Linked DNA regions of Homo sapiens: region 2 is linked to region 1. Evidence: fine-mapped expression QTL. A gene starts in region 1. The other region holds a variant in brackets. All regions are shown on one strand. Distances are between the middles of the regions. Region 1 holds the start of CACNG8 (calcium voltage-gated channel auxiliary subunit gamma 8). Region 2 holds the start of CACNG6 (calcium voltage-gated channel auxiliary subunit gamma 6).

The links.
Region 2: its variant is fine-mapped to the expression of CACNG8 in whole blood (TOPMed, PIP above 0.99).

Annotation. Positions count from the first base shown.
Region 1 is chr19:53,950,459-53,966,410 of GRCh38, reverse strand. CACNG8 (calcium voltage-gated channel auxiliary subunit gamma 8) reads right to left here and starts at 3,474. Exons shown (of 4, transcript NM_031895.6): 1 at 2,986-3,474. The coding sequence starts at 3,268. RefSeq lists enhancers at 4,113-4,633, 5,444-6,344, 8,555-9,089.
Region 2 is chr19:53,984,643-54,000,594 of GRCh38, reverse strand. It overlaps CACNG8 (calcium voltage-gated channel auxiliary subunit gamma 8), which reads right to left. Exons shown (of 4, transcript NM_031895.6): 4 at 10,380-15,952. CACNG6 (calcium voltage-gated channel auxiliary subunit gamma 6) reads right to left here and starts at 8,958. Exons shown (of 4, transcript NM_145814.2): 1 at 7,387-8,958; 2 at 2,282-2,356; 3 at 824-961. The coding sequence starts at 7,717. The variant T/C (reference allele first, on the strand shown) is at 7,917.

The DNA.
Region 1 (15,952 bases):
AAACAAAAACAAACACAGAAGCTGGCCAGGCATGGTGGCTCACATCTGTAATCCCAGCACTTTGGGAGGCCTAGGCGGGCCAATCACTTGAGGTCAGAAGTTCGAGACCAGCCTGGCCAACATGGTAAAACCCTGTCTCTACTAAAAATACAAAAATTAGCCGGGCATGGTGGCACACACCTGTGATTCCAGCTACTCGGGAGGCTGAGGTATGAGAATCGCTTGAACCCAGGAGGCCGAAGTTGCAGTAAGCCAAGATCACGCCACTGCACTACAGCTTGGGTGACAAAGCAAGACTCTGTTTCAATAAATAAATAAATAAATAAATAATTTTTAAAAAACAGAACCTGTGGGATGGGGACCCTGATACCCCTACGACTGCACCTCTTACTCCTACGTTCTCCGCCACCCACTCTGCCCCGGCCACGCTGACCTCACACTGGCTTGATCAACACACAGCCACACTCCCACCTCAGGGCCTCTGCGCCTGCTATTCCTACAGTCTGAAGCACTTTCCTCCATCTCTTACTTCCTTCAGACCTGTGATCAAATGTCACCTGCTCGGGGAAGCTTTTCCTAGATTCCTTATCTACTTCCCACGGGGATCCCTGACCCCTCCCATCCCCTCCCCCAACTCCTTGTCCTCCTTAGCACTCAGTTCTATCTAACACCCTAAAGGTTGACTTTACCTCCATCATTATCTGTCTCTCCCTTAGAATATAAGATATATAACGACAGGAGGTTTTGTCTGTTTGTTTTCCACTGCTGCAGCCCCAGAATCCAGAACAATGCCTGGCACATAATATAAACTCAATAAAAATGGGACGTTGAATGAACGAATGAATGAATGAATGACATCCCTACTAGATGCCACGTGCTGTCCTAGGGCTCCCATGATGGGAGCCCTCACACTTGGCTCTATGCCTGGTACTTGGTCAGACCAGTGAATGGACATGAACTCAAACTTCCACAGGAGAGGCAAAGAACATCACGAGAGCCGTGGGAGGAATGGGAGGCGAGACGGAGCAGATGGAGGTGACTGTGGGGAAGTGGAGACCCCCCAGCTGCTGCTCAGATCCGGCCCATCGTGGTCAGGGTAGAACACAGGCTTGTGCTAGATCTTCCGCCAGCTCAGAAGAAGCCGGAAATCAGAACTACAATGGGAAGCCTCCCTATTTTTAACTGTTGGCAATGGATTCAGATTTTGCTTTCAGTTTTAAACACTTTGTACACTAGACAGAGCGCATCTGTGAATCCCATCCATGAGATTCGAGTTCTGCTCTTGGCTCGGCCCCTTTCTCAGCTAGGTGACCTTGGGCAAGTGACTTCACTTCTCTGAGCCTCAGTTTACCCATCCCCAACAGCGAGGTGGTGCCCACCTCATAGGATTAAACGAGATAACGTTCCCGGCTTGTCGTGAACACTCAGCAAAACAGAGGAAGAAGGGGCAGAGGAAATAGAGGGGGATGAAAAAGAGAAGCAAGAGATTTCAATCTTTTGGCCGAAGGGGGCATCAGGATGGCTGGTTCCACTCCTTCACGTTGCAGACAAGGGCTGTGAGGCTGGGGTGCAGGAGGGAAGACAGTGGTCACACAGCAGGGCAGATATGCAGCAGAACTGGCACCCAAGACTCCTGCTTCCCAGCCCCGCAGCTACTTGATACTCAGGAAAGAAATACTGATGCTAAGAGTGGGAGAGAGAAGGGGTTGGCACAGCAGAGGGCAGGAGTCTTGGAGAAGTGGGGAAGTCGAGAGCCAGGGAGCCGAGCTAGGAGAGAAGCTGTGAGAGGGAGAACAGGACAGAGGAAAAGAACCAAGTCGAAGATCCGAGGAGGTAGCAGGGGCAGGAGCGAGAAGCCTTAACGTGAAGGCCTGAGGCATCGAGTCAGGAAGACGTCGAAGGAGGCATGAGTGGAGGAAGAGGAAGTGGAGTCCACTAAAGGAAAAAGGAGGAAAGGACCAGGATGGGAGGTTGGAGGGCACCCTGGTGGGAGAGACATGGGTGGGGGCACTGATGGGAAGAGAAAGATGAACAGGAGGAGAAGCACAAGGCAGAAAAGAGAGAAAGTCATGAGTGAGGGCGAGTTAAGGCACGAAGTTTCAGGGGAGCAGCAGCCAAAGAGAAGGGGAAAGAGACAGACCGGAAGACTGGGCCGTGAAAGGGGGCGGGAGAGGCAGGGGACTTCAGAGGACTGGGGGGGAAATGTCGGGAGAGAGAAGATGTCACGGGGCACGAGGGAGAGGAAATGAAGGGGCAGGTGGAGCGGAGGAGCAGGGTCAAGATGAACTGACGGGAAAGAGGGAGAAAGAGGCTGCTGGGTGCAGTGGCTCATGCCCTTCATCCCAGCACTTTGGAGGCCAAGGCAGGAGGATCTCTTGAGCTCAGGAGCTCGAGACCAGCCTGGGCAACAGGAGACCTCATCTCTACAAATAATAAAAAAAATTAGCTGGGCACAGTGGCTCATGCCTGTGGTCCCAGCTACTCAGGAGGCAGAGGTGGGAGGATGGCTTGAGCCTAGGGATTCGAGGCTGCAGTGAGCTGTGATTGTGCCACCGTACTCCAGCCTGGGCGACAGAGTGAGACCTTGTCAAAAAAAAAAAAAAAAAGAGAAAAGGCACAGGGCAGAGTGGAAGAAATGAAACAGGAGGAGCCCCAGGTACTGGAGAGAGGGAAGATGCAGGGGTGTGATGGGGCAGCGCAGGAGACACGGACTAGGGAAAGATAGGATAAGGGGGTTCAGCGGAGAGGCAGAGGGGCTGCAGAGGGAGCATGCCGAGGAATTCCGCAGGGTGCCAGGACGCAGGGAGGAGTGGGAAGGAGGGGAGAGGAGGTCAGGGGCGCGAGTGGGAAGGCGCAGAAGCCCCTCTGGCAGAGGAGGAGGGGTGCCCAAGGGGGCCCCAGGATCAGGGACAGGCAGCCCCGGGAGGCTCAGGGTCTCTCGGAGGGGAGCGGCGGGGGCTGCGGGGAGGGCCGCCCGCACCCTACCTTCCAGGCAGCAGATCCTCCAGAGGCCCGAGTGCGTGAGGCCGCCGGGGTCCTTCTTCTCCGAGGCGCCGCCGCCCCCGCGGTGGGGGGTCCCGTCGTCGCCGCCGGCCGTGAGGTTGGTGGTGTTGCAGATGAGGGCGCGCGTGTAGAGCCAGTAGTCAGTGCTGATGGCGATGGTCATGAGGCCGAAGGCGGCGAAGGCGCCCACCGTCGTCAGCAGCACCTGCACCCCCTTCTCGCACCAGAGGCCCCGCTCTTCGTTCCAGCGCTTCAGCGACTCCAGTTTGACCACGGGCAGCCGGGGGGCCGTGGGCCACCACCGGGGCAGCGGGGGCGGGGCCGTGCCGGCGGCTGGGGGGGGGTTCACAGCGCAGGCAGAAGCGGGGGGCCCGGGGCCGGCGGGGCTGGGGAGGGGGGCGGCGAGGAGGAGGCTGCGGCCGGGGAGGGGGTCAGAGCGCGGCCATGGTCGGCGGCTGGTGGAGGGCAAGGAGCGAGATCTCGCATTAGAGGAGAAGAAGGCACAGGTACCTCCCCCAGTCCCCGCCCCCCCCCCCCCAAAATCCCTGCCTCAGCTCCAGAAACTCCTTCCACTCGGGGCTCCACTGCTTCTCTTTCTCAAAAATAATAATAATAATAATAATAATAATAATAATTAATAAATAAGATGAAATCTCTCTCCACTCTTGTCTTCTGCCCAAGAAAGTCATCCCACCATCCCACTAACCCCACTCGGAGGAGTCCCCACCACCGCTAATAATTAATAAATAAGATGAAATCTCTCTCCACTCCTGTCTTCTGCCCAAGAAAGTCGTCCCACCATCCCACTAACCCCACTCGGAGGAGTCCCCACCACCGCTAATAATTAATAAATAAGATGAAATCTCTCTCCACTCCTGTCTTCTGCCCAAGAAAGTCGTCCCACCATCCCACTAACCCCACTCGGAGGAGTCCCCACCACCGCTAATAATTAATAAATAAGATGAAATCTCTCTCCACTCCTGTCTTCTGCCCAAGAAAGTCGTCCCACCATCCCACTAACCCCACTCGGAGGAGTCCCCACCACCGCTCACACTCACAGCCCTCGCCCCTAGCCCGCGCCGCCTCCGCCCCAGGGGGCTCCACGATCCTCATCGCATGGGAAGCCACCCCCCGCCATGATGCCAAGCCCCACGCCGCCGCCTCCTCCCCAGGAGCCCCCGTCGCGTTCTTCCTTCCTTAGCGACCCCCGCCCCATCACCATGCGGCGCCCACCAGCTCTCCCCACTCTTCCCCTGCAAGCCCCACCTCTCCACCCGCTAGAACCCTTCCCTGTCAGCCCAACTTTTCCCTGAGCGTCTCCACAACTTAAGAAGCCCGAGTAGCACCACTTCCGTGGGAGTAACCTCCGCGAGCCCCCTCCGGTCTGGCTTTTGTCATTCCATCACTCCAAATGGTCCCCCACAGTTTCCTCTCCTTAGGAAAAAATAAATCTCTCAACCTCTCTTCAACTAAAAAGGAAAAATTAAAAGAAGAAGAAAAAGAAAAAGAAAATCCCAGCTGACCCTCACAGTTTGTGCAACTCGGAATCACCAGCCACCCTCAGTCAGCCTCCTCTCCCTGGAAGCCCCCTTCCTGCCTCGGGCAGCCTCCAACACACCTGGAAATCACCCGAGGACCTTAAAAATTCGGATGTTTGAGTCCCACCTGAGAAAGTCCGACATGGTTGGTCTGCAGTGTGGCCTGCGCATGTAAGTTTTTAAAAGCTCCCTGGGGAATTCTAATGCACCCAACATCAGACCCACTGGTTTGCAAGCTGCCCCCCCCCCGCCATCTCCAGCCCATTCCCTGTCACAGCCCCCACTGTCTCCCCACAAGCCACTCACTCCCCACCCCATACTATGCCTTTACTCCAGGAAAACCCCCACCCTCTCTTTTGCTTTAGAAGAGTTTTCTGAATCTTCCCACCCCGCCACCCCCCCCCCCACAACTTAAACGAACTCATATCATAACCATCGTTTTCTCCTCCATTAAGAAAAATTTCCTCCGTGAGTTCCACGGCATTTTCTACTCGCAAGAATGGCTTCCTCCAGACCCCAAATGTCTCTCCACTCAGGACCATTCCAATCTCTGCCCTGTACTCCCATAGCAGGGGGCACACTGTACCACCCACCCGCCCCTCTGCACTCACAGCAGCTCCCACTGCCTCCAAATCCCCTCCTCGTAGCCCTTCATCATCACACGGGATCTTCAGCACACTGTTTCCCCCAACTTGAGATCCCCCTAACTCACTTTGAAGCCCACTCTCTCTTCAATGTACCAGGAAGCATCCTCCCCAACTTCTCTCTCATCATATAGAATTCCCTTGACTCACTTCCTCTTGCTCCACCGCTATAGCTCCCAGGTTCTCCTCTGCCCCGGAAAATCCCCTCCGCAGGCCCCCACAGGCTTCCCTTCTTGGGAACGCCCCCCAGTACTCCCCTCTACGACTTCACCTGTACAGGAACACACACTGTAGCCCCTCATCTTCTTCCACATGCAGAAAGAGCCCCCCCAGTAGACTGTGTCCCTCTGAAAAATGTGATCCGCAAGACTACAACTCTCTTTTCAATTAGGAATACTTTCCCAGCCTGCACCCGCTGCCCCGTGGCTCCTTCATTTCTCTCTTCCACATTCTCCCCCGACCACCATGCCCCCAGCCCTGCCTGTCTCCCCCACCCCAACTGTCCTCTGGGGGATGTACTCCTTACTTGCTTCCACACTGCTTCTTCAACTTCTTCCCCCAAACCCACTATAGTTAAGAGCCTGGAAACCTTAGACGAAGAGGGGATTAAAAAAAAACAAAACAAAAACCAGAACCTAGGTCCCAGTACAGGGTGACCTTGGCCTCCTGATTGCTTGCCCGTCTCCACTGCCCCCCATCAGCTGGCCTCAGACTGGGGCTGCTCCGAGGAGGGGCTGTGGAAAAAGGTTGTCTATGGGGGGTGTCTCCATGGCAACTGGGCCTAGTGCCCCACACGTTGTGTTCCCTCCCCCACCTCAACTCCCGTCTGCCCACACACAGCCCTTCCTCAGGCCACAGTTCAGCAGCCCGCTGGACAGGGCAACCCCCAGCCTCCCGGCCTGGGCGCCGGCCCCTTCCTCTCTTTTCTGTCCGCATGCTGAGTTTCCTCTCTTCTTGATCTCTTGGCCTCTTCTCCCCGAATTGGTGCCCCTCACCACCAGCAGGGCCACCTACCCTGTCTTAACAGATATCTGCTCTCAGTGGGGTAAGCCTGTGACCCCAGGCCCCTAACAACCTGGGATAAGAGGGGAAGGGAAGAGGAGGGAAAGGAGGGAAATTCTCCTTCCGTCCAAAAAAAAAAAAAAAGATTCGAAGATCTTTTCATTTTGTCAATTTGGGGCACAATCTGGTTTTAGGGACTCTTAGTCCATCGTTCAGCAGCTGCCAGGGAGAAGAGAGCTGGGGACCCCCAATTCTAAAGCTTCCGGATATGAGGGGGTCACTCTCCTTTCTCCTTAGGAAGGGGACCAGCTCTTTTCTCCAGAATTCGGGGGGGGGGATCACAGAACATTAATTCTACCTCCACCCACCTCCGATTAATAAAAAGATCTGTCTCACCTCTGTTAATGATAGGTCAACTCTCCGATGCACGGAGGAGGGGACGTCGAGCCCCCCCTGTTGGCACCCCCCCCAGAAAAACCTTTTGGCTCCCAATTCTCGCTGCTTCCCCCTCCCCCAGCAGTGAGGGACCCAGGCGTCCGACCTGGTTCGGGGAGTGGAGATGAGGAGGCGTATGGGGAATGGGGGTGCTGAGGTCAGGCTGGGGCTGGGGGGCAGCTCTGAGCCTGGGCCCCAAGGGAGTGAGGGTCGGGATATATATATTAAAAAAAAAAGGTGAGGAGACAATTTGGTTCTCGTGTCGCTGGGTAAAGTGCGGAGCTGGAGGACGAGAGGGAGGGAGTAGGGAGGGAGGGGGAGGGGAGCTGCTGAGGGATGGGGAGCCTCGGAGAGGAGATGGATGGGGGAAGGGAAAGAGGGGGGCAGGGTCGAGTGGCAGAAGGAAGCCGGAGGAGAAGAGAGAGATCCAGAGAGGGAGGGAGAGAGACAGAGAGAGACGAGGAGAAACGGAAAGAGAGAGACCCAGAGACCGCGAAACAGAAATGGGGGAGGGAGAAATTTGGGGGAGGCAGCGGCTGGAAGCAGAAGGAAGTTGGAGAGATACACACAGAGAAATATCCAGAGAGAGAAGGGGACAGGGACAGAGACTCAAAGAGAGAAACGCAGGGGCTGGGGGGGAGGGGGTGGGGGAGGGCTGGGGTAAGTGTGTGTGTGGGGGGGGTCAGGATCTGGGAAACAGAAGGAAAGAAGAGAGAGGGAGAGAGTCATCCAGAGAGGAGGGAGGAGGGACAGATGGGGAGAGACAGACAGAAAGAGAGAGACTGAGAGGATGGGGGAGAGAGGGGGGAGAGGGAATGAAATGGAGAGCGGGTAGGGAGAGAAATTGGGGATGGGGGCAAGGTCTTGCTAGAGAGAAGGAAGCTTTAAAGAGAGAAGAAGATGCGGAGAGGGAGCGGGGGAGCAAGATAGTAAATGAAAGAAATGGAGGGTAGAAGGGCCTGGATGGCAGAAGGTACCTGGGGAAAGAAAGGCAAGTGCAGGAAAAGAGGGAGACCCAGAGAGAGACAGACGGAGAGGGACTGAGACAGGAAGAGAGAGAGATCCAGAGAAACAGAGGCAGACACAGAGACTGGGGATGCACCCGAAGGAAGCCCAGAAAAAATAACGGGAGAGGGGTGAGGCTGAGAAGCCCCGAGGAGGTCAGAGATGAAGGATACCCCTGCCCCCGCCCCCTCCCGCGTCCCCAGCCCCGGATCCCTGCCCCCTCCCCCATTCCAATGCCACCACCCCCACCCCCACTAGCCTCCATCTCTCTTCAGCATCGCTTGCCGCCGCCACCGCCTCTTCCTGTCGTCATAGCAACAGGATCCAGGCGCCCAGCCAAGGCTGGCAGCGGCGGCCGGAAATGAGGGGAGGGCCTTTTCAAAAGGACCCCAGGAATGCTCCCCTTTCCCAAAATCCAAGGGAAAGCGCAACTTCCCGGGGTCTTCCCACCGCTCCTCCTCCAAGTGGCGAGGGCAAAGATTCCCCCCCCACCACCCCAGATAAAACAATATTGAACTTACCACGTTAACAAGCCTTTTGACTTTCACCAACAATTTTTTCTTTTCTCTTCTCATCCCCCTCCCCTCCCCTAGTTCAAACCTGATGGGGAAGAAGGGGTAGAGTTAGATGCCCCCGAGATGGGGCTGGGGCTGGGAAGGAGAGTAGAATGCCAAAAGCTTGGGTGCAAATATGTCTTAAAGAAACTTGTCTGGGACTGGGTAGGGGTCTATGCAACAGTTTTGAGAAGCATGGATCTGTCCGTTCTAGAACTAGCTAGTAGGTTGGGGAAGTGGAACAATCGGAGGTGGAAAGTCTGAGATCAGAGTCTGAAAGTTCGGTCTTGGGTCCAAATTTCACGGATGCTCCCAAGGCTTCGTGTGACCTTGGACAAAACACTTCTTCTCCTCTATACTCAGTTGCTCTTGGTTATAAAGGGCACAGAAGCTGCCTCCAACCAAGTGAGAACGCGGATGGGAAGTGGGATTGCACGTGGCTCTAGGCAAGCCGTTTACTCAAGACCCGATCCTCGTAAAAATGTTATCAGAAACTAAGAACTAGTAGCCATGGCTGATTGAAGGCTGTTGGCATGCTTCGCTGTCTTACAGAAGTCCTACAGAATCTTTGCCGTGTGGGCACCAATGTTCCTACATTAACCATGAGTAACCTGAGGCTCTGAGACAATAGGGGTTATGGGGGTGGAGGGCGGCCAACAATAGGTGAAATTCATAGTCATTTAACCCAGCACACCTTTACTGCTCCCTCCTGGGGGCTGGCAGAAACAGGAATAACCTGTGTTCCCTAAATCTATTTACCTAGTGTTTGCTCCTGCTGGTTCCTTCCTTTGGAGGGGCGATATCTTTCAGTCCCCAGCATCTCACATTTCTACTGAAATTTCTTTAGGTCGTTTCACTTAATTCTCACCCCGCCCCATGGGAGAAAGTTTAGACATGCATTCCAACACTCCTGGTTTAGAAGCTAAGAAACACAGCCCCCAAGGGAAGGGGTCTGGAATTCATTCGTTTGAGGAAAGTTGATTATTTTCTGCTCTTTTGCTGGGGGATGCGGGGGGAGATACATCAGCAAACAATGATGATAACCAATATAAACTGGACATTTAGGCTGGGTGCAGTGTCTCATGCCTGTAACCCTAGCAATTTGGGAGGCCGAGGCGGGCGGATCACCTGAGGTCAGGAGTTTGAGACCAGCCTGACCAACATGGTGAAACCCCGTCTCTACTAAAAATACAAAATTAGCCGGGCATGGTGGTGCATGCTTGTAATCCCAGCTACTTGGGAGGCTGAGGCAGGAGAGTCACTGGAACCAGGGAGGTGGAGGCTGCAGTGAGCTGAGATCGAACCGTTGCACTCCAGCCTGGACAACAAGAGTGAAACTCCGTCTCGAAAAAAATAAAAATAAAAACAAACTGGGCATTTAATATTACAGACTCCAAGGAGCCTGAGGGTATTGGTTCCATCTTCAAAAGAAGTGGGTTCTGTTAGCAGCCTCCACTTTAAAGATGTGAAAACTGAGGTTGAGAGGTCAGTTGTATTGGAGGACATTCATCAGGACATCAAATTCCAGAGCCTGTGCTGATACAACTGCACTGGTGAGAACGACTATGAAGATAATTTTTTAAAGCCAGGGTTTCCCAATCTCAACGTTCTCAACATTTGGGCTGGATAATTTTGTGTGGTGGAGGCTGTCCTGTGCATTGTAGAATGCTGAGCAGTACTCCTCGCCTCTATCCACTAGATGCCAATAGCACCTCCAAATAGCACCCTAAAAATAGCATTTGGGGACAACCAAAAATGTCTCCAAACATTGCTCAATGTCCCTTGGGGAACAAAATCGCCCCTGTTGAGAACTATTAAATTATACGAACTAGCAACTGGGGGAAACCTCTTTATTTTATTTTAAATGAAAATATATTTCCTAGTCCAATCAATATAGGCTCATGGTTTAAAAAAAGAAAAGAAAAAAAATCAAATGGTACACAAGGGACTACAATAAAAATAATTTAGCCTGTTCCACCTCAAGTCCTTTTCCTTATTGGAAAAGTCTATTAACATTCTTGTTTTTGCTTTTGTTCTTGTTACTTGAGACGGAGTCTCACTCTGTCGCCAGGCTGGAGTGCAATGGCGCAATCTCGGCTCACTGCAACTTCTGCCTGCCGAGTTCAGGCCATTCTTGTGCCTCAGCCTCCCGAGTAGCTGGGATTACAGACATGCAGCAACATGCCCAGCTAATTTTTACATTTTTAGTAGAGATGGGGTTTCACCATGTTGGCCAGGATGGTGTTGATCTCCTGACCTCTTGATCTGCCTGCCTCGGCCTCCCAAAGTGCTGGGATTACAGGCATGAGCCACCACACCCGGCCGTCTATTAATATTCTTAGCTATTTCTTCTCTTACTTGCCTTGACATCCCTAAATAATGATTTTCTTTTGGAATCAAAATTATACATTATTTATAGATATTTTTTCTCTAATAGATAACAAATCAATTCATGCAGCCCTCACTTTTCCTTCCCTTCTTCCTCAAGTGTTAGTTCTTCTATTGGTAATTTTGTGACACTAAGTGATGCATGATTACATCATGATTTATTTCAACAACTAAAGAGTATATCTCTTTTTTTCACAGCTTTATTGAGATCGAATTCACATATCATGCAATTCACCCACTTAAAGTGTACAATTCAACGGCTTTTAATTGTACAGAGCTGTGCAATCATCAACTTCAGATCACTTTTAGAATATTTTCATTAGTCCAAGGAGATACTGTGTACTCCTTAGCCATCACCCCCAATCTAAGCACCCACTCCAGCCCTAGGCAATCACTAATGTACTTTCTGTCGGTATAGATTTTCCCATTCTAGACATTTCATAGAAATTGAATCATACAACGTATGGTTCTTTGTGTCTGGCTGCTTTCAGGCTAAGTAAGTAATGTCTTTAAGGTTCATCCATGTTGTAGCATGAGCCAGTGCTTCATTCCATTTTATGGCAGAATAACATTCCATGGTATAGCGGGAGATACCACATTTTATTTATTCATTCATGTATCAATGAACATTTGAGTTTCTTCCACATTTTGGTTATTACAAATAATGCTGCTGTGAACATTTGTGTGCACATTTTTGTGTAGACATATGTTTTCATATCTCTTGGGCACATACCTGGCAGTGAACTTGTAGAATGAGTTTAAGGAATGAGATAGCATCTCTTCACTTCATTTTGAAAGATGGGAGTATTACCAGGTGTGGTGGTCCACGCCTGTAATCCCAGCACTTTGGGAGGCCGAGGCGGGCAGATCACCTGAGGTCGTGATTTCGAGACCAGGCTGGCCAACATGGTGAAACCCCGTCTCTACTAAAAATACAAAAATTAGCTAGGCATGGTGGTGCACGCCTGTAATCCCAGCTACTTGGGAGGCTGAGGCAGGAGAATCGCTTGAACCTGGGAGGTGGAAGTTGCAGTGAGCCAAGATCGTGCCACTGTACTCCAGCCTGGACAACAAGAGTGAAACTCTGTCTCAAAAAAAAAAAAAGCCGGGCGCAGTGGCTCATGCCTGTAAACCCAGCACTTTGGGAGGCCAAGGCGGGCAGATCACGAGGTCAGGAGATCGAGACCATCCCGACTAACACGGTGAAACCCCGTCTCTATTAAAAATAAAAAATAAAAAAAATTAGCCGGGCGTGGTGGCAGGCGCCTGAAGTCCCAGCTACTCGGGAGGCTGAGGCAGGAGAATGGCGTGAACCCAGGAGGTGGAGCTTGCAGTGAGCTGAGATCATGCCACTGCACTCCAGCCTGGGCGACAGAGTGAGACTCTGTCTCAAAAAAAAAAGAAAGAAAGAAAGAAAGAAAGATAGATGGATGGGAGTATTGAACCCACTGATCACTCCTTCAGCTCATGGAAGGCCCCTTCAGAAGGGGTGTCACAGAAGAAGCAGGTTGTAGACTTTTATAAGATCTCATTTCTACATTTGCTCACATATTCATTTCACATTAGCCAAGGCCTCTGCTGGGCTTGACCCAGAGACCTAGAGCCTGCAGACTTAGAGATAGGTTTGCTAATCCCTTCCCTTGAGAAGGTCCTCGGTCCTCACTTCCAACTGTGATAGGCAGAATTTTAAAATAACCTCCAAGATTCCCACCGCCTGGTGTACACACCCAAGAGAATCTCCTTCCCTTGGGTGTGGACAAGAGCTGTCACTAGGAGGTGATGCAGTCCCCATGATTATGTGACATTATATGGCAAGGTATGGGATTTTGTAAATATAATTAAGGTCCCTAATCAGTTGACTTCATTAAAAAAGAAATTATCCGGCTGGGCGCAGTGGCTTACGTCTGTAATCCCAGCACTTTGGGAGGCTGAGGTGGGCGGATCACGAGGTCAGGAGATTGAGACCAACCTGGCTAACACGGTGAAACCCCGTCTCTACTAAAAATACAAAAAATTAGCCAGGCAAGGTAGCGGGTGCCTGAAGTCCCAGCTACTCGGGAGGCTGAGGCAGGAGAATGGCATGAACCCCGGGGGTGCGGAGCCTGCAGTGAGCCGAGATCGCGCCACTGCACTCCAACCTGGGCAACAGTGAGACTCCGTCTCAAAAAAAAAAAGAAAGAAAAGAAAAGAAATTATCCCAGGTGGGCCTGGCCTAATCAGGTGATCTCTTAGGAAAGGATCAAGACGTCAGAAATAACCAAAGCAAAGGAGTTGCTGAGAACCCTGAGGAAGCAAACTGTCTTGTCATGGCAAAGACCTGAGAGTGAGTGGCAACTGCTAACTAGAAAACAGAGACCTCAGCCAAACAACTACAAGGAAATGAATTCTGCTCAACCTGTGGGAGGTTGGAAGTAGTTCTCTCCCTAGCCAAATCCCCAGCAGAGGACACAGCCAGCCGGCATCTTAACTTCAGCCTTGTGAGACCCAGAGCTCACCAGGCGCAGTGGCTCACGCCTGTAATCCCAGCACTTTGGGAGGCCAAGGCAGGCGGATCACTTGAGGCCAGGGGTTCGAGACCAGCCTGGCCAACATAGTGAAACCCTGTCTCTACTAAAAATACAGGTGTGCTGCCGCACACCTGTAATCCCAGCTCCCTGGGAGGCTAAGGCAGAAGAATCACTTAAACCTGGGAGGCGGAGGTTGCAGTGAGCCAAGACTGTGCCACTATATTCCAGCCTGGGCAACAGCAAGACTCCGTCTCCCAAAAAATAATAATAACATAAAATTCTCGGCCGGGCGCGGTGGCTCATGCCTGTAATCCCAGCACTTTGGGAGGCTGAGGCAGGCGGATCACGAGGTCAGGAGATCGAGACCATCCTGGCTAACACGATGAACCCCCGTCTCTACTAAAAAATTCAAAAAAAAATAGCCGGGCGAGGTGGCGGGCGCCTGTAGTCCCAGCTACTCGGGAGGCTGAGGCAGAAGAATTGTGTGAACCCGGGAGGCGGAGCTTGCAGTGAGCCAAGATCACGCCACTGCACTCCAGCCTGGGCGACAGAGCAAGACTCCATCTCAAAAAAATAAAAAATAAAAAATAAAATAAAATAAAATTCTCCTATGTCTCCCTATTGCCCTTAGGAGTAAATCTAAGCTCCTCACCTATGTCCTTTTGCCAAGAGCACAAGTCTCATCGTATGCCGCCCCCATTGCTGCCTCCTGCAGACTGAAGGTGTCTTCCCTACCATTCCCAGCTCCTTCCTGTTCTGAGGGTTTCCTGGGTGGTTTTCTTCCGTGGAATCCCCTTCCATCTCAGCCATATGGCAAACCCTCTATCCACTCTTTTTTTCTTTCTGAGACAGGGTCTTGCTCTGTCACCCAGGCTGGAGTGCAGTGGTGGAATCTTGGTTCACTGCAGCCTTGACTTCCCAGGCTCAAGCCATCCTCCCACTTCTTCCTCCCCAGTAGCTGAGACCACAGGCAAGCACCACCACACCCGGCTATTTTTTTTTTTTTTTTTTTTTTTGTATTTTTGGTAGAGAAGGGGGTCTCGTCATGTTGCCCAGGCTGGTCTCAAACTCCTGAGCTCAAGCGATCCGCCCACCTCAGCCTCCCAAAATGCTGGGATTACAGAGCCACTGCACCTGGCACTATCCACTCTTGAGATTCAACTTACACGCTCCTTCCTCCAGGAAGCCTTCCCTGACCTCCCAAGCCTCCATCAGGGTCTACATCAGTGCTCCCACCAGGCCTGCACTGGCTCCTTAAAGCCACAGCAAGGCTATATTGTGATTGACATGTGGGTCGGTCTTCTCCGCACTGGTGCCGGAGCTGTTCAAGGACAGGCACGGGTCTGATTTACTTCCGTGTCCCCTAGATCCCAGCTCAGCCCTGATGGACAGGAGCCCTCGGGTCCAGGGATGATGAACAAATGAATGAATGAATGAACGAATGAATGAGAAAATGAATGAGTCAGGGAATGAGTGGATACATATTCTAGGGTCTCCACCCTCTACGCAGCCAGTTCCAACCTCTTGTCCCTATCCAACCCTTCTCCCTGCCTCACATCCTGAGTGTGTGGTTTTTCCCAGGTGCGCGAGTGTTTCTCATCAACAACAGCTGGGGCCTTTGTGTTTCCTCAAGAGGAACAGGGTGGTGGTGGCATGTCTTCCTGCTGTACCAGGAAGCGTCGATCAGCGTTTCTTAAACGTCCTCATTCAGGGTGAAGTGGAAATATTCCAACGCTGGGGAGCCAGGTGGCTGGAGTTCCAACTCCGGCTCTTCTTTGCCTCCCCAAGGAACCCGGATCCAAAGCTTGATTCTCACTGCAGCTTCCTTCTCTCATTCTCTCATCTGTAGAAGGGGAAGAGGGATACCGTTAGTGATCTCTCTCTTGTTGAGACTGTGATTCGAAATCACACATCCAAGGCATTCTGCCAGAGCTAATGGGATGTCACTGAAGCCCCTGATATTATGTACAGAATATTGTGAGTATAAGTATTTTTTTCCTGGGGGTCCGTAGCTTTTATCTGACTCTCCAAGAGGTCCCTAATCTCCTGCAGATTATCACAGCTGGCAGAGCGCCGTGGCTCATGCCTGTAATCCCAGCACTTCGGGAAGCTGAGGCGGGAGGATTGCTTGAGCCCAGCCTGGGCAACATAGGGAGGCCCCCGACTCTACAAAAAATATATATATTTTTTTGAGATGGAGTTTTGCTTTTATTGCCCAGGCTGGAGTACAGTAGCGCGATCTTGGCTCACTGCAACCTCCACCTCCCAGGTTCAAGTGAATCTCCTGCCTCAGTTTCCTGAGTAGCTGGGATTACAGGCGTCCGCCACCACATCCGGCTAATTTTTTGTATTTTTAGTAGAGATGGGGGTTTCACCATGTTGGCCAGGCTGGTCTTGAACTCCTGACCTCAGGTGATCCACCCGCCTTGGCCTCCCAAAGTGCTAGGATTACAGGGATGAGCCACCATGCCAGGCCAAAAAATAATTCTTAAAAAATGAACCAGGAGTGTAGTCCTAGCTCCTCAGGAAGCTGAGGTGGGAGGATGCCTTGAGCTCAGGAGGTTGAGGCTGCAGTGAGCCAAGGTCATGCCACTGCACTCCATCCAGCCCAAGCGACAGAGAAAGACCCTGTCTCAAAATAAAAATTAAAAAAAGAATCACAGCTTATGAATCAATTTAGGAAAAACTCATTTGTGTCCATAAAAATAAAGGTAAAAAAGAAAAAAAGAAATATATATATATATATATATATATATATATATATATATATATATATATATTTTTTTTTTTTTTTTTTTTTTTTAGACGGAGTCTTGCCCTGTTGCCCAGGCTGGAGTGCAATGGCGTGATCTTGGCTCACTGCAACCTCCGCCTCC
Region 2 (15,952 bases), 34 kb before region 1:
AAATAAATAAGTAAATAAAATGGGGGATAGTAAGCCCTGCCTAATAGTGCTGTTGTAAGGATTTGAACTGGAAGTACAATAAACTGAAGTGTTGTTTATTACTGAGGGCTACATTTCACAAGATGCAGCATTTTATTTAGACCTTCAGCTCCAAGAATGCAACAGTCCTTGCAGACCTCAAGTCTCAAATCTAAAAGAGCATTTAGAGACCATCAAATTCTGAGCCAACAATAGGGCTTGGAACTCTTCCACCTTTGAGCCTGCTATAGCCCCTGGGCTTCCCTGACCTCTCAACACGCTATAGTGCTTAAAACATCTCAGCATGAAACAGTGTTTGGGGACTCCATGTTCAAACCTTGAAAAGCGTTTGGACAGCTTCCAATTCCCAGCCAACAACAGGGCTTAGAACTCTCCAATTTTTGAGACCTCTATAGTCCTTGCGCTTTCTCTAATGCCTAGCATGCAACAGTGATTGGAAATCCCAGGTCCAAATCTAAAACAATGTTTGGACACCCTCCAATCCTTAGCCCGGTTGTTGGGGTTCTCCCATCTTTGAACCTACTATAGCCCTTGGGCTTCCCCTCAACTCCAAGCATGCAACAGGGCTTGGAGATCCCACCTCCCAGCGTGCAACAGTGTGTGGAGATCCTACTCCCAGCATGCAACAGTGTGTGGAGACCCTACTCCCAGCATGCAACAGTGCATAGAGATTCCATCTCTGAGCGTGCAACAGTGCATAGAGACCCCATCTCCCAGCATGCAACAGTGCCTGGAGATCCTCCCAGCATGCAATGTCCTCAGCCTCCAGGCTCTGAACCCTCACCTGAGAGGCCAAAGCAGACGGCTCCAACTCGGAGCAGGAACTCTGCACCTTTACTGAGCACCATGATGATACAGAGGCACCCCAAGGCCATGACTGCCAGGCCCAGCACTGCTATCACCGCAGCTGCCAGATTCACCTCTGCCAGCAGGAGAGAGGAAAGAAGCAGAGAACATGGGATGTAGGGAATGAGGAGGATTCACCCATAGGAACCCAGAACCAGGAAGATGTAAGATTCGGGACGAGAGAAGAATTTTCAAGTAGAGTATCATCCAGCCCAACATTTTACTTACACTGTTGAAGGAATTAAGACTCAGAAAGGGTCAGTTATTTCTCTAAAGTCACTGAGCAAAGGGAGGAGAGGGCCAGGATTAGAAAGAGTTGAGAATTACCAACTATTACTTAGGATCTGGTTACCACTGGTTTACAGTTGAGGAAGCTGAGGCAGTGGGGTGTGTGGGAGACGATGGCAAAGGCAGTGTGCTACAGTGGAATGATCCAGGTTGGAAATCTCACCAACTACTTCCTACATGGAAGATTCTAGTAGGATTTTCCAGATTCCAGTAGGAATTTAGGCTGAACCCTTCTCAGCCTAAATTTCCTCCTGTGGACCAGGTGCGGTGGCTCACACCTATAATCCCAGCACTTTGGGAGGCCAAGGTGGGTGGATCACTTGAGATCAGGAGAGTTCAAGACCAGGCTGGCCAACATGGTGAAAAATTTTCCTGGGAAGAATAATTGTAACCATTCCTGGACTTCTGGAAGATGGAAGATAAAGCCCCCACCCTGCAGGGCTACTGCGAGGACTGGAGATCTTACAGATGGAGTGCCCAGCACTGTGGTCAGTACTTGATGCCTGCAGGTTTGTGAGATGTCCAAGTGCTACCCACAGAGAGGGGCTGCGACTTGCCCGGGGTGACACAGAACGTGGCATAGGCAGAGATGGGGTAAGAGCTCTAGGCACAGCTAGGTGCAGTGGCTCACGCCTGTCATCCCAGCACTTTGGGAGGCTGAGGAGAGGGATCACCTGAGGTCAGGAGTTCAAGACCAGCCTGGTCAACATGGTGAAACCCCATCTCTACTAAAAATATAAAAATTAGCTGGGCATGATGGTGGGCGCCTATAGTCTCAGCTACTCAGGAGGCTGAGGTAGGTGAATTGCTTGAACCTGGGAGGCGGAGGTTGCAGTGAGCCGAGATTGTGCCACTGCACTCCAGCCTGGGTGACAGAGCAAGACATCATCTCAAAAAAAAAAAAAAAAAAGAGTTCTCTAGATTCTCTAGAGCACCATGTCCCCATCATTAACTCTCCCGCCAGCACTCCCCAGGGGACAGCCACAGATTATAGACACGAGACCTGCCCTGGGGTAAAGCAGAGGAGGGGATAACTCTCTCTAGAACTCCTCCAGCACGCTCAGCATTTCCCCCACCTGTCACCCAGCAGGGGGTGAAAAGTTCTCACCTTTCTTTGTGGTTCTCTGAAAGATGCGTGCATTCTCCCCCGTGGTGAAGAATTTAAAATAGGTGCAGTTTGCTTCTGTGGGAGCAGGAGAGAGAAAACAGACATGAGGATGTGAGGTCCCTTGCGTAAGCTCAGGGCTGGACAGTTAACAGCCCACGGGAGCCTAAAACTTGGACATCAGCATCCCTGATACACAGAGGAGAAAAATGATGCCCAGAGGTGTGAAAGCCACCTGCGACCACACTGCCATCTAGGAGCTGGGACTCCTACCCGGGGCTCTGAGCCCCAGACCTGTGGCCCCAAGTGCGCCATTAGCCTCTCTGGGTCTCTAGTTCCTCCTCTTTAAAACGAGATAATAATCTCTTTCCTGGCCCCTTCGTATGGGTTTGTTGAGGGTCAAGTGGGATTACATATGGATAATCACTTGATTCAACAAAGGATACCAAGATACAAGTAGCAGAAGACTAACAGACTCAGAAAGGAATCCTGTCTCAGGAAGGATTCCTACCTAGAACACACAAAGAGCTCCTGCGGATTAGCAAGAAGAGAGAGAGAACCCAGTTGACAAATGGGCAAAGGGTATGAATAGTAATTCACAAAAGAGGAAGCCTGGGTAACTCATAAGTCCATGGAGAGATGCCCCACTTCACCAGGGATCAGAGAGAGGCAGCCGGAATCAGCAGGGAGCCACCACTTCCCATCAATTAGATTGGCCAACATTAAAAGGGTCATATCAAGCGTTTGAAAAGATAAGAGGAAACACCGTGTATGAACGGGTACTCCTAGTCTTTTGGGAAGGCACTCTGAGGTACTTTATGAAATGAAGAATGTTCATAGCCTGTGGCTCAACAATTTCATTGCAGGGTATAACTCCAGAAAAAAAAAACAAAACAGGAATATATATGCAGATGTTTACAGCAGCACTGTTTATAAGTAACATGGAGTCAGAATCAAGTCAGGTGTCCATCTAATGGGGAACAGACAAGTAAATGACACAGACAGTCCTTGTGAAAATCTCTCCAGTACATATAGCCATGAATTAGAATAACCTAAAGCAAGATGGAGAGATTTGAGAAACACAGTGTTGATCAAAACAATAATGATAATTAATATTAATAATTTAATTTAAAAATCCAAAAATTGAGGCCAGGAAAGGTGGCTCACACCTGTAATCCCTGCACTTTGGGAGGCCGAGGCAGGAGAATCACTTGAGCTCAGGAGTTTGAGACCAGCCTGGCCAACGTGGTGAAACCCCGTCTGTACCAAAAATACAAAAAATCAGCTGGGTGTGGCAGCACACACCTGTAATCCCAGCTACTCGGGAGGCTGAGGCAAGAGGATCCCTTCAGCCTGGGAGGCAGAGGTTGCAGTGAGCCAAGATTGTACTACTGCACTCCAGCCTGGGTGATAGAGTGAGATCCCATCTCAAAAAAAAAAAAAAAAAAAAAAATCCCAAAGATCAGACAAAATCAATAGCATGATCTCATTTATGTAAAACACACATATAAACTAACACTATATATTTTCCAAGTCAAAATACATATCTGTGAGTGTATATCAAACACATTAAAGAGATGAGCTGGAAAAGAACGAGGAAAAAATAATATAAAACAAAGCACAGGGCCGGGTGTGCTGGCTCATGCCTGTAATCCCAACACATTGGGAGGCCAAGGCAGGCAGATCACTTGGGGTCAGGAGTTCGAGACCAGCCTTGTCAATATGGTGAAACCCCATCTCTACTAAAAGTACAAAAATTAGCCGGGAGTGGTGGCACATGCCTGTAATCCCAGCTACTCAGGAGGCTGAGGCAGGAGAGTCGCTTGAACCCGGGAAGCAGAGGTTGCAGTGAGCTGAGATGGCACCACTGCAATCCAGCATGGGTGACAGAGCAAGACTACATCTCAAAAAAAAAAAGAGAGAGAGAGAAATTTTAAAGTTAAGAAAGACAGAAAAAGGAAGAAAGGGAGAGAAGGAAGGAGAAATGAAGGAAGGGAGGGGAGCACTTTCTGAAGTGCATTTTAGACCCAGAAATTCCCTCAGAATTCACCTAGCCTGACCTACTCTCTTATTCTACAGATGGGGAAACTGAGGCACAGAAAGAGAGAAGAGAGGTCGAGAATAACAGGAGTAAAGGCCATAGAAGAGGGACCAGGCAGTCCATGAATGTGAAAAATTGAACTTTTCAATTTGAACAAGGATATGAAGGGACAAGAAATCAATCCCTGAGTCAGGTGAGGTGGTGTGGGCGGGCGCTCCCCAAGTACCCCGAGGGGAGGTGAAGGGGTGAGATGTCCGGCCAGGAGGAGTGGGATATGTGAGTTCTTATGCAGCAGCAAGAGGTAGAGGATGCTGGGCTGCGCGTGGTGGCTCATGCCTGTCATCCCAGCACTTTGGGAGGCCGAGGCGGGCAGATCACCTGAGGTCAGGAGTTTGAGACCAGCCTCGTCAACATGGTGAAACCCCGTCTCTACTAAAAATACAAAAATTAGCCGGATGTTGTGGTGCATGCCTGTAATCCCAGCTACTTGGGAGACAGAGGCAGGAGAATTGCTTGAACCTTGGAGGCAGAGGTTGCAGTGGGCCGAGATCGTGCCATTGCACTCCAGCCGGGGCAACAAGAGCAAAACTCCATTTCAAAGAAAAAGAGGTAAAGGGTGCTTCACGTCACTGAGCGAAGGGTGCAGGTGCTCTTTGAAGCAGTCATTGCGGGAAACACGGTCTACATCCACAAGGGAAGTGTGACGGCCCTTCTGGGACAATGTAGGTTGCCTGGCATCCTCTTTTGGCTACTAATAGTTTAGCACATCCCAATTCGACCACCCCCAAACATGACACATCCCATCTGGAAAAGTGCAGGGTAAGGGTCACCCCCACATTCCATACTTATAGCCAAGGGAGCCAGGGATGCCTTTTGATGGGCAGTGGTGAGTGTGAGATATTTCTCTGAGATAATGAAGATTGAGAGATGTCCTCTGAGGGGTTGGGTTTGTAAGATAACGTTAATGGCCCTGCTGGAAGACTGAAGTCCTTTCTGATCAATGGAGGGGACAGCAAGGGATGCAAGGAACCCCATACAATGCGGTGAGATGGGATGGGCCACCCCTCCATTGTCCCAGGACCTTTGACCTTTGGGATCTCTTGATGGACCAGTGAGATGTGATATAATGCAGTTGTTGAGAAGAGAGGCAACCAAGCTTCAAATTCCATCTAACTAGCCTGGGTGCATAGACCGAGCCACCGAGATTTCTCGCCCCCTCATTTTTCTCTTCTCTAGAACGGGAGTGATAATAACGACTCATAGGCTAGCTATGATGCTTGATGAGTTAATGTACATAAAACACTGAGATGAGAACCAGGCATTACATAAGCAGCTACTATTCTTATTACTGGGGACTCCCATTTTGCAAAAGTTTGAGATCATCCTTTATGAGACCCCTGAGGGGCCAGAGACAGCCCATCTGCAGAAATAAAATGATCAAGGGTAGCCCATCTGGACACCAAGTGGGTAGCTCAGACAGCCGGGGGGCCTGGCATCCCACTGTCCTATCGAGGGCTTGGGACATCCTATTTTGCACTCTACACATATAAGATATCACATCTGGAGAAGTGAGGGACGAGGGAAATCTCATACGGAGCCCAGAAAAATAGGCCATATTCTTTGAGGGGCACTGGGATGATAGGACCGTCTTTGGAGACTGAAGAGTGCTGGAGATCTCATATGGGTGATCAAATATATGACAGCCCAAATGGGCTCTGAGGAGTGCCAGGTATTTTCCATGGGTCAGTGGAGGTAGAAGGAGATTTCATCCAGTTCCCAAGGGGTATAGAATGTCCCCCTGGTATAAGCACAAGCCGTGGCGTGGCGTGTCAGGGAGGTATGGAACAGCTCTCTGCCATGCCCAGGGATAAAACAGCCATGATTTGGGAAAGGAGGGAGTATGGGAATGTCTCTCGGAGAAAATGAGAAACGCTGAAATGTCCAGTCTGGGCATTTGGAGGCGAGAGGACAGGAAGTGAAGAACATTGCAGGGAAGGAACAAGGTCTGCCCTCGGGTGTTGGGAGGCGTCTGGTGAGAGCTTGGTTTGGTGGAAGCAGTAGGTGGGGAACAGGCATAGATCCTGCTTTGGGGTGGGCGTCTGTCTCCCCAGGGCTCACAGGATGGGAGCGCAAGCTGTCTCCAGGCTGGGAAGAGGAAGCTGACACCAGGAACCCAGGCTGTCTCTCCATGGGCACAGGCTGTCTGTGGGCACATGCAGAGTGGGCACGGGCTGTCTCCAGGGCACAGGCACTTCCAGAGGGTGCAGGCTGTCTGGGGTGGGCACAGGCTATCTGAGGACACCAGCTGTGTCTGGAATCACAGGCTGGGTCTGGGGACACAGGCAAGATTTTTCTAGTGACACAGGCTCTCTCTAGAGCTGTAGGCTGGTCTGGGGGGACACAGCGATGCCTGGGAACATTGGCTGTGTGGGGGCAGGGACTTTGGGGGTCATAGAATCATCTGGGACCATAGCCTGGTGTGGAGGTGCAGGCTGATCTGAGGGCACAGGCTGGTGTAAGGATGCAGGCTGGTCTGGGGGTATAGACTGGTCTAGGGGTGCATGTTAGTCTGGGGGTGGAAACTGTAGCTGGGGACACAGGCTCATCTGGGGGTACAGGATAGTCGGGGTACAGGATGGTCTTGGGGCACAGGCTGTAGGCGGGGGCACAAGCTCTCTTTAGAGGTGCAGAATAGGGGTACAGACTCGTCTGAGGGGGTCTCAGGTCACAGCCTGGTCTGGGGGTACAGGATGGCCTGGGGGCACAGACTCCCTGTAGGCACATTCTGGTCTTGGGGTACAGTCTGTAGCAGGAAAGCAAGCTCTAAGGCACAGGTTCTCTGGCGGTAGGCCCGTGAGGGACCTGGGCCATATCTGGGGGATCCCTCTATCTCTCAGCAGTTTCTGAGAGCAGAGGACGAAGTGGGCACTGGCGCTTACTGCGAGGCAAGCTGTCTCCTCCGGGCTCAGGCTTTTGTCCCTGGGGCGGGTTTTCTCCTCGGACACGGGCCCCTCTCCCTCCCTGTCCGTGGGACGCAAGCCCTGCGCTCGGGGCGGCGGCTGCTCACCTCCGGGCAGCTCCGCGGGGCCGCAGGTGTCCCTGTCCACGGGCACGTCCGCCTGCCACAGCCGCTTGGTGCACGCCTTCCACAGCCCCAGGTGGGCCGCTTCGCACACGGCGCTGCCGTTGGCCTTGTAGGTGTTGAGCTCCACCCAGAACTCGGTGCCCACGGACAGCACCGCCAGCGTGGCGCCCACGGCGGCCAGCAGCAGCGCCAGCTTCACCTTCCCCTCGCGCTCGGGCGTCAGCCCCGACCTGCCCTGCCCGTGCGCCCGCCGCCGGCCCGCGGCCCCCCGCCGCCGGTTCTCCTCTTGCAGGAAGAAGTTGGACCACATCATCTTATGGCCGGTGGGGTCGGGAAGGGGGAGGAGGCAGAGCCGGCGAAGGGCCTCGAGGGGCGGGAGCGAGGAGCGGCCTGGGGTCTTGAAGGGGGTGAGGGACTCAGTTTCCCCTGGGTATGAAAGAGGGAGAGCCGAGTCCTGTCTGGAATCTCAAATGCGAAAGTCGAGATTGCTTCTGGGGTTCAGAAGAGAAAAA[T/C]GATCCCCAGGGCTGGGGAAGCCTCTGGGGTTCAGAGGAGGGTCTAGGTTGCCCTCAAGAACTTGGCAAAGAAGACGGGGCCCAGAGGAAAAACAAGGCCCCCACCCTGAGGTTTAGAGATAGAATTCGGCTTCCCAGGAGGGAGTCCCCCCAAGAGCTCCAGAGGAATGAGAACTGGTGCCCGCTGAAGCTCCCTGCAGCTCCAAGGGGCTGCTTTGGGGTCCCCGCTGGGGGGTTAACAAAAGGGAAACTGGTTTTCCTGAGAGATCTGAGCACCCCACTAGGGCTAAGAGTTTGGGGTACCCAGGAAGGGACCTGAGGTCCTGTGTGTGTTTGGAGGAGATGTGGCCGGGGTTCCCTTGGGCTCAGAGTTTGAGAACAGAGGACTTGGGGACCCTCTGGGATTCGGAAAAGGAAGACCTGGGGTCCCGGGAAGCTCCCAAGGGGAGGTCGGAATTCAATCCGGGTCTCAAGAGAGGCAGTAGGACCCCGGCATCCACAGAAGGAGAAGAACAGAGCCCTGGCTGGGGCTCAGAAGAGGACTGGGCCTCGCTGGAATTCAGGAAAAGGGGATAGGGGTCTCCCCTGCCATTCAGAAAAGATCCGAGGTCTCTACTGAGCCTGGAAAAGGGGCCGGTGGCCGGAAGACAGAGTGGAGTCCAGAGGCGGGAGGCTACGGGGCCTCCCCGAGGGCTGGGGCAGATGGGACCGGGGGCCCTCCTGGGGCTCACACTATGGGGCTGTGGTCCGCACTGCGGCTCGGAAAACCAGGACTGAGTCCCCCCAGGGTTCAAAGGCCAACCGCGACCCGCAAGAGACGCTGCGCCCCTTCGGGATCAGTCCGTCTCCCTCCCCCGGGCTCCCAGGGCCTTCCCGGTCGGGTTCGCGCCAGGCTCAGCCCCAGGCCAGGGCCCCCCCTCGGGGCTCCCACCCCCGACTCCCGAGCAGGGGCCCCTCTCGCTCTCCTGCCTCGGCCCCGCGCCGACCCCAGCTCCGCGCTGCCTCCGAAGCGTCCGGCTGTGCCCGCCACCGCCACCGGCCTGGCCTCCGCCCGCGCCCGGCCTCGTCCCCACCCGCCCACCCCCCACCCTCCACCCTCCACCCTCGGGGCTATTTCGGGCTTGACCCGTAAATAACACCCGCACCTGTCGCCCGGCGCCTGTTGCCATAGGGATCCCGGGTGTTTTAAGGGGACGAGGAAGGGGGGAGGGAGGCCGCCCGGGGAGGAAGGGGCCGAGCCTGATGGGACTTTCATTTCACTAAGGGGCAAGAGCGGCGCCGAGAGTCCCAGCTCCGCAGTCTCCCGGGCAGCAGGAGACGGGCGGGGCAGCAAGTCTGACTGGGGTTACCAGGGAGGAGGGGCGGGAGGCAGGGCCCCGGGTCTCAGGGAGGAGGGCCTGAGGCCAGGAGTCTTGGGTCCCTAAGGGAGAAGAAGCCTCGGTACCCCACTTCTGAGTGGTAGAGGAAGAAGGCCTGGGTACCCAGAATCTTGGATCTGAGAGGAGAGGAACCTGGTCTCCTAGGTCCTGGGCTCCTGAGTCTGAGGGAGGAGGGGCTGGGGGCCTGAACTCCTGGGTCTGAGGGAGGAGGGGCTGGGGTCTGGACTCCTGGGTCTGAGGGAGGAGGGGCTGGGCCTGGGCTCCTGAGTCTGAGGGAGGAGGGACTGGGGCCTGGACTTCTGGGTCTGAGGGAGGAGGGACTGGGGCCTGAACTCCTGGGTCTGAAGGAGGAGGGGCTGGGGGCCTGGACTCCTGGGTCTGAGGGAGGAGGGGCTGGGGGCCTGGACTCCTGGGTCTGAGGGAGGAGGGGTTGGGGGCCTGGGCTCCTGGGTCTGAGGGAGGAGGGGCTGGGGGTCTGGACTCCTGGGTCTGAGGGAGGAGGGGCTGGGGCCTGGACTCCTGGGTCTGAGGGAGGAGGGGCTGGGGGCCTGGGCTCCTGAGTCTGAGGGAGGAGGGGCTGGGGGCCTGGACTTCTGGGTCTGAGGGAGGAGGGACTGGGGCCTGAACTCCTGGGTCTGAAGGAGGAGGGGCTGGGGGCCTGGACTCCTGGGTCTGAGGGAGGAGGGGCTGGGGGCCTGGGCTCCTGGGTCTGAGGGAGGAGGGGCTGGGGGCCTGGGCTCCTGGGTCTGAGGGAGGAGGGGCTGGGGGCCTGGGCTCCTGGGTCTGAGGGAGGAAGGCCTGGGCCTGGACTCCTGGGTCTGAGGGAGGAGGGGGCAGGGGGCCTGGACTCCTGGATCTGAGGGAGGAGGGGCTGGGCCTGGACTCCTGGGTCTGAGGGAGGAGGAGGGCCGGGGAGCCTGGACTCCTGGTCAAGGCGTTGGCAGACCCAGAGTCCTGGGCCTCAGGGAGGAGACTGGGGCCAGAACCCTGGGTCTTGAAGGATGGAAGGCCTGATTTCCATGTTGGAGAAAGCGCAGGCCTCAGGGCAGGGCCGGCTGTCAGGGGCACAGAATGAAAGCAGCACTCCTCTTCATCGAGTTTATTAGACGGGGCACCCCTGGGGGACCTTCCATGCAGTTTCAGCTCCCCCAGGAGCAGGGACAGAGGACAGCCGTGTGGCATGGCGGCAGGGCCTGATCTTCAACCCCTCACCCCCTACCCCTCAGCCCTTCTGTGGACGGCCCAGGTGGGACCCACCTTTCACCAACTCCTTCTTCTCCCACAGTTGGCTGCTCCAGGCAGGCCTGGCGCTGACCTGAGCGAGGCTCTGGTGCACGCTGGGCCTCTCTGCCCACCCCCTGCTCTGGACTTTTCCGATGGAGCACGTGTTTCCCCGCAGTGTGATTGTCTGTGTCTGGTTCTTCCAGCAGACTGGGGCCGGGGCCAGGCACAGGAGGAATTCACCTTGGCATCCTCAGCTCTACCCGGCACAGGGCCAGGTCACAGGCAGTCTTGGAAAATGTGCATGGGGTGACTTGAATGAATGGATGGATGAATGGGCAAAGGAATGACCAGATGGAGTGAGATGATGGCACACAGACATCCCCGCCCCAGCTAGGGGAGGGGCCTGCTGCGTTTCCTCAATGCCCGCGTGGCCCCGTCAGAACACAGCCCCCTCTGTATTCTAATTGTCTGGACTACCTGTCCCCCCCTCTGAAGGCAGAGATGGGACAGAAGTGGCCTGAGATTGCAGGGCCTTGTACTTGGAAGTCCTCAGGAAATATTTTTTTTTCTTTTTATTGATCATTCCTTGATGCTGTGCTTGCTTCTGAGTCTCCACGTTGCTTTCTATGCGAATCTCTGGGTCTTTCTCCGGCTTACGTCTCCCTATCTCTGTGGTTGTGTTTTTGTTATCTCTGGGACTTCTCTGATTTGTGTACCTGTCAGTCTCTCTCCTCCTCCTTTTCTGTCTTCTCTGTATCACCTTCTTGTCTTTGACTTTATTTCTTTGACTTTCTTTCTTTCTGTTTTCTGAGACAGGGTCTTGCTCTGTGGCCCAGCCTGAAGTGCAATGGTGCAATCATAGCTCACTGCAACCTTAAACTCCTGGACTCAAGCAATCCTCCCGCCTCAGCCTCCCGAGTATCTAGGACTACAGGCGTGAGCCACCACGCCACAGCTCATTTTTCATTTTTGTAGAGACGGGGTCTTACTATATTGCCCAGGCTGGTCTCAAACGCCAAGCCTCAAGCAATCCTCCTGTCTTGGCCTCCCAGAGTGCTGGGATTACAGGCATGAGCCCCCAAGCCTGGCCAGAAAGTATTTCCAAGAACTGAGTGAATGTTTATTTCTGAAAATGAATGATGAAAACGTGTTCTTCCCCTTCACCTCAATAGGTCTTGACAGGGTCTACAGGGGGAATCCCAGAGTGTGCCCGGCGCTGACAGCAGCAAGAGACAGGAGCTGGGCAGAGCATCCCTGGCTAGGGGATCTGCCAGAGCCTAGCTGACAGCATCCTCTCTTCCCTGCCCCCTGAATTCATCTTCCCCTCCTGGCCCTGGGCTTCCCCATCTCTCTTGCTCCTGCCTGCTGTGACAGCTAATTGCAGGATGCAATTTTCTGCCTCCCATCTCCCTATCTGCATGTCTCCCTACTTCCTTTCAGGGTCATTTTTTTTTTTTTTTACCTTTTTTCTTTTTTGAGACAGAGTCTTGCTCTGTCACCCAGGCTAGAGTGCAGTGGTGTGATCTTGGCTCACTGCAACCTCTGCCTCCTGGGCCCAAGAGATTCTCCTGCTTCAGCCTCTCAAGTAGCTGGGATTACAGGTGTGCACCACCGCACCTGTCTAATTTCTGTATTTTTAGTAGAGACGGGGTTTCACCATATTGGCCAGGCTGGTCTCGAACTCCTGACCTCAAGTGATCCACCCACTTCGGCCTCCCAAAGTGCTGGGATTACACACGTGAGCCATCGCACCTGGCCTTTGTGTCAGTTACACACACACACACACACACACACACACACACACTTGCCTGAATTCCCTTTCCTTCTGTCTTCCCCCCAAATTCTCTCTCCCCTCCACTCCAGCAGGGCTTCTGTCCCCACCACTGCACTGAACTGACATCTTATCTTATCAAGATCACCAACCCTGTCCATGTCATCAGACCTAATGGTCACTCTGCTCTCTGCATCCTTGTCCAAGTCTCAGCAGCCCTTGGCACAGCTGGCTGTCTCCTCTCCTTCTTGAAACACAAAGGTGCATTTGCCCTCTGTAACCCTCCTGGTTTCAGCCTACCTCGAGATCACTCCTAAGCTCGTTTTGCTACATCCCCTTCTCCCCCAGATGTAGATGTCCCCAAGGCTCTGGCCAGGGTCGCTTCTCTGTCCCCACCCCCCTGCTAGGCCACGTCACCCAATCCTGTGGCTTTATGTTGACGTTTCCAAAACTTACGTTTTTGAGCCACGGCCTCTCTTTCCCCCAAACTCCAGTCTCACATATCCAACTGGCTATTTGATACCACAACTCGGATTTCTCGAAGGCAGATCTATCTTGACACATCCAAAAGAGAAGCCTTGGTTCCTCCCTCCCAAAGCCACTTTCCTGATCCCAGTCTCCTCGTTCCTGGTAACAATCCTCATCGGTGCCCATCAGAGATGTGCGTGCCCAATTCAGAGAGTTCTTCTCTTCCTGGTTCCTTTTCCTTCCCTCCTCTATGACATCCAGTTCACCACCAATGCAGGCTCTAGCCTCCAAAATCCCATGCCTTCTTCCACTTCCTCCATCCCACTAACTCCACCTTGGTCCAGGCCTCCAGCAACCAGAGGAAGGCAACAGCCCGCTACCTCCTTCCTTCCCCTTTGACTCCTGAAGTCTACGTATGCTCAGCACAGCAATGTAATTCTGCTGTTCTTGTTTAAATAAAAATATGAGGCCGGGCGCAGTGGCTCACTCCTGTAATCCCAGCATTTTGGGAGGCCGAGGCAGGTGGATCATTTGAAGCCAGGAATTTCAGATTGGCCTGGCCAACACGGTGAAATCCCGTCTTTACTAAAAATACAAAAAAATTAGCCAGGCGTGGTGGCACATGCCTGTAATCCCAGCTACTCAGGAGGCTGAGGCAGGAGAATCACTTGAACTTGGGAGGCGGAGGTTGGCAGTGAGCCGAGATCAGCCCACTGGACTCCAGCCTGAGACAGAGCAAGACTCTTTTTCAAAATAAATATAAATAAGAAAATAAAAATATGATCATGGCATGCCTGTGCTCAAAACCCTCCAAGCACTTCCCATCAGATCTAGAATAAAATTCAGATTTCTTCCCAAGGATCCAAGGCCCTAACTGATCAGCCCCTACCCTGTGCCTCTGTCCTATGGTGGATCTGCTCACCGCACAGGCCTCCTCGAAGACCTGCTACTTTTCTGGGCTTTGGGGCTGCCTCTGGTGGGTGGAATGCCTGGCCCCCAGACTTTCTCACCTCTCTTTCCTACTCACAATCCACATCTCTGTGACCTCTGCCACAAGGTCTACTCCAAGGACCTCATCTAAAGTCATCCTTGCTCTGTCATTCTGTTACCACTCACTGTCGCCCAGGCTGGAGTGCAGTGGCGCGATCTCAGCTCACTGCAACCTCTGCCTCCTGGGTTCAAGTGATCCTTCTTTCTCAGCCTCCCAAGTAGCTGGGACTACAGGCACACCAGCACACCCAGCTACTTTATTTATTTATTGGTAGAGATGAAGTTTCACCATGTTGACCAGGCTGGTCTCGAACTCCTGACCTCAAGTGATCCACCAGCCTCGGCCTCCCAAAGTGCTGGGATTACAGGCATGAGCCACTGCGCCCGGCCTTCAGCTTAATTTTTAAAGCACTTTTTGGTTACTGAAATGATATTATTTATTGTTTATCTCTCCAGTGTGTTTCAGGAGAGCAGGCCCTTGTCCGTCTATTTGCCACCACATCCCCTGGCCGAGATTGGGTCTAGAACAGGTTGGCACTCAATAAATATTTCTTGAATACTGGGAAAACAACACACCAGAAATGGAGCATTCCTTGACGCTGCGCTTGCTTCTGAGTCTCCACGTTGCTTTTTGTGCGAATCTCTGAGTCTGTCTCCGGCTTACCTCTCCCTCTCTATCTCTGTCTCTGTGTGTGTTTCTGCTATCTCTGGGACTTCTCTGATTTGTGCACCTGTCAGTCTCTCCTCTTCCTCTTCTCTCTCCTCTGTATCACCTTCCTGTCTTTGACTTTTTCTCTGTCTGTGACTCTACTAGTTTGGTCTCTCCTGCTCTCCCCCTCCCTCCCCATCTTGCTCTTCCTCCTGCCTACCCTCAACCTCATTCTTTCTCTCTCTCTCTCTCTCTCTCTCGTTCTGTTTGGCCTTCAGACTCTAGAATCCATTCTCCCCTAACCAGTTCCCTCTCCCTCTTCCAGCAAATATTTGCTGTCTCTCAATTTTTTTTTTTTTTTTGAGACAGAGTCTCGCTCTTTCGCCCAGGCTGGAGCGCAGTGGTGCCATCACGGGTCACTGCAGCCTCACCCTCCCAGGCCCAAGCGAGATCCTTTCACCTCAGCCTCCTGAGTAGCCGGGACTACAGGCGTGCACCACCACACCCGGCTAATTTTTGTATTTTTGGTAGAGACAAGATTTCAATATGTTGGCTGGTCTGGAACTCCTGAGCTCAATCTGCCTGCCTCAGTCTCCCAAAGTGCTGGGATTAGGAGCCACAGCACCCGGCCAGATTTGTCTCTTTTAACACCCGCTCCGGCATCCCTCTTCTCTCCACGTATCCGTCTCTCTCACTCAGCGCTTCTCCGTCTCACTGATTTGTATTCCTTTTCCTACATTTCCCAGCATCTCTTCCTGAAACCGCCTTGGCAGAATTCTTCCTAGGGACCTTCAGTCTCTCTCTTCCTGGTCCTTCCACACAGGCCTCGGAGAGAAATTCTGAACACCCAGCTCTGATCTGTACCCTTCCGTCAAGAGAAGGGCACGCAGAGCCCCTGGCAGCATGGCACCACCGCTGCCACGTCCTCCTCAAGCTGCGTCTGTGCCTGTTTTCCCGCCAGACTGGGAGCCCCTTGAGAGCAGGGCAAGATCAAAATCACCTCTCCACTCCCAGCACCGCCCAGCACAAGGCTTCGGGGGAGGCCTCAGGAAACACTTGCTGAGCAAATATGGAAGGGAAGCCTACTGGGCGCTGTCCCCTCTGCCTTCTCAGTGAACTTCAAACCCATCCCCTCCAATCACCGCACAGCCCTTGCCCCCGCGCAGCTGTCATCCTCTCTCACCATCCTTAGAAGAGCCTCAGTCCCTCTGCCTGGAACTCAGGCACCTTTTTCTCTTTTTTTCTGAGACAGGATCTCAGTCTGTTGCTCAGGCTGGAGTGTAGTGCCGCGATCCTAGCTCACTGCAGCCTCGAACTCTTGGAGTCAAATGGTCCTCCTCCCTCAGCCTCCTGAGTAGCTGTGTCCACAGGTGTGCTCCACCACGCCCGGCTAATTTTTTTTAATGTTTTGTAGAGACAGGGTTTCGCCATGTTATCCAGGCTGGTCTCAAACTCCTGGGCTCAAGTGATACTCCAGCCTCAGCCTCCCAAAGCGCTGGGATTACAGGCATGAGCCACCGCGCCCGGCCACCCTGGTACCTTTACACTCTAGCTT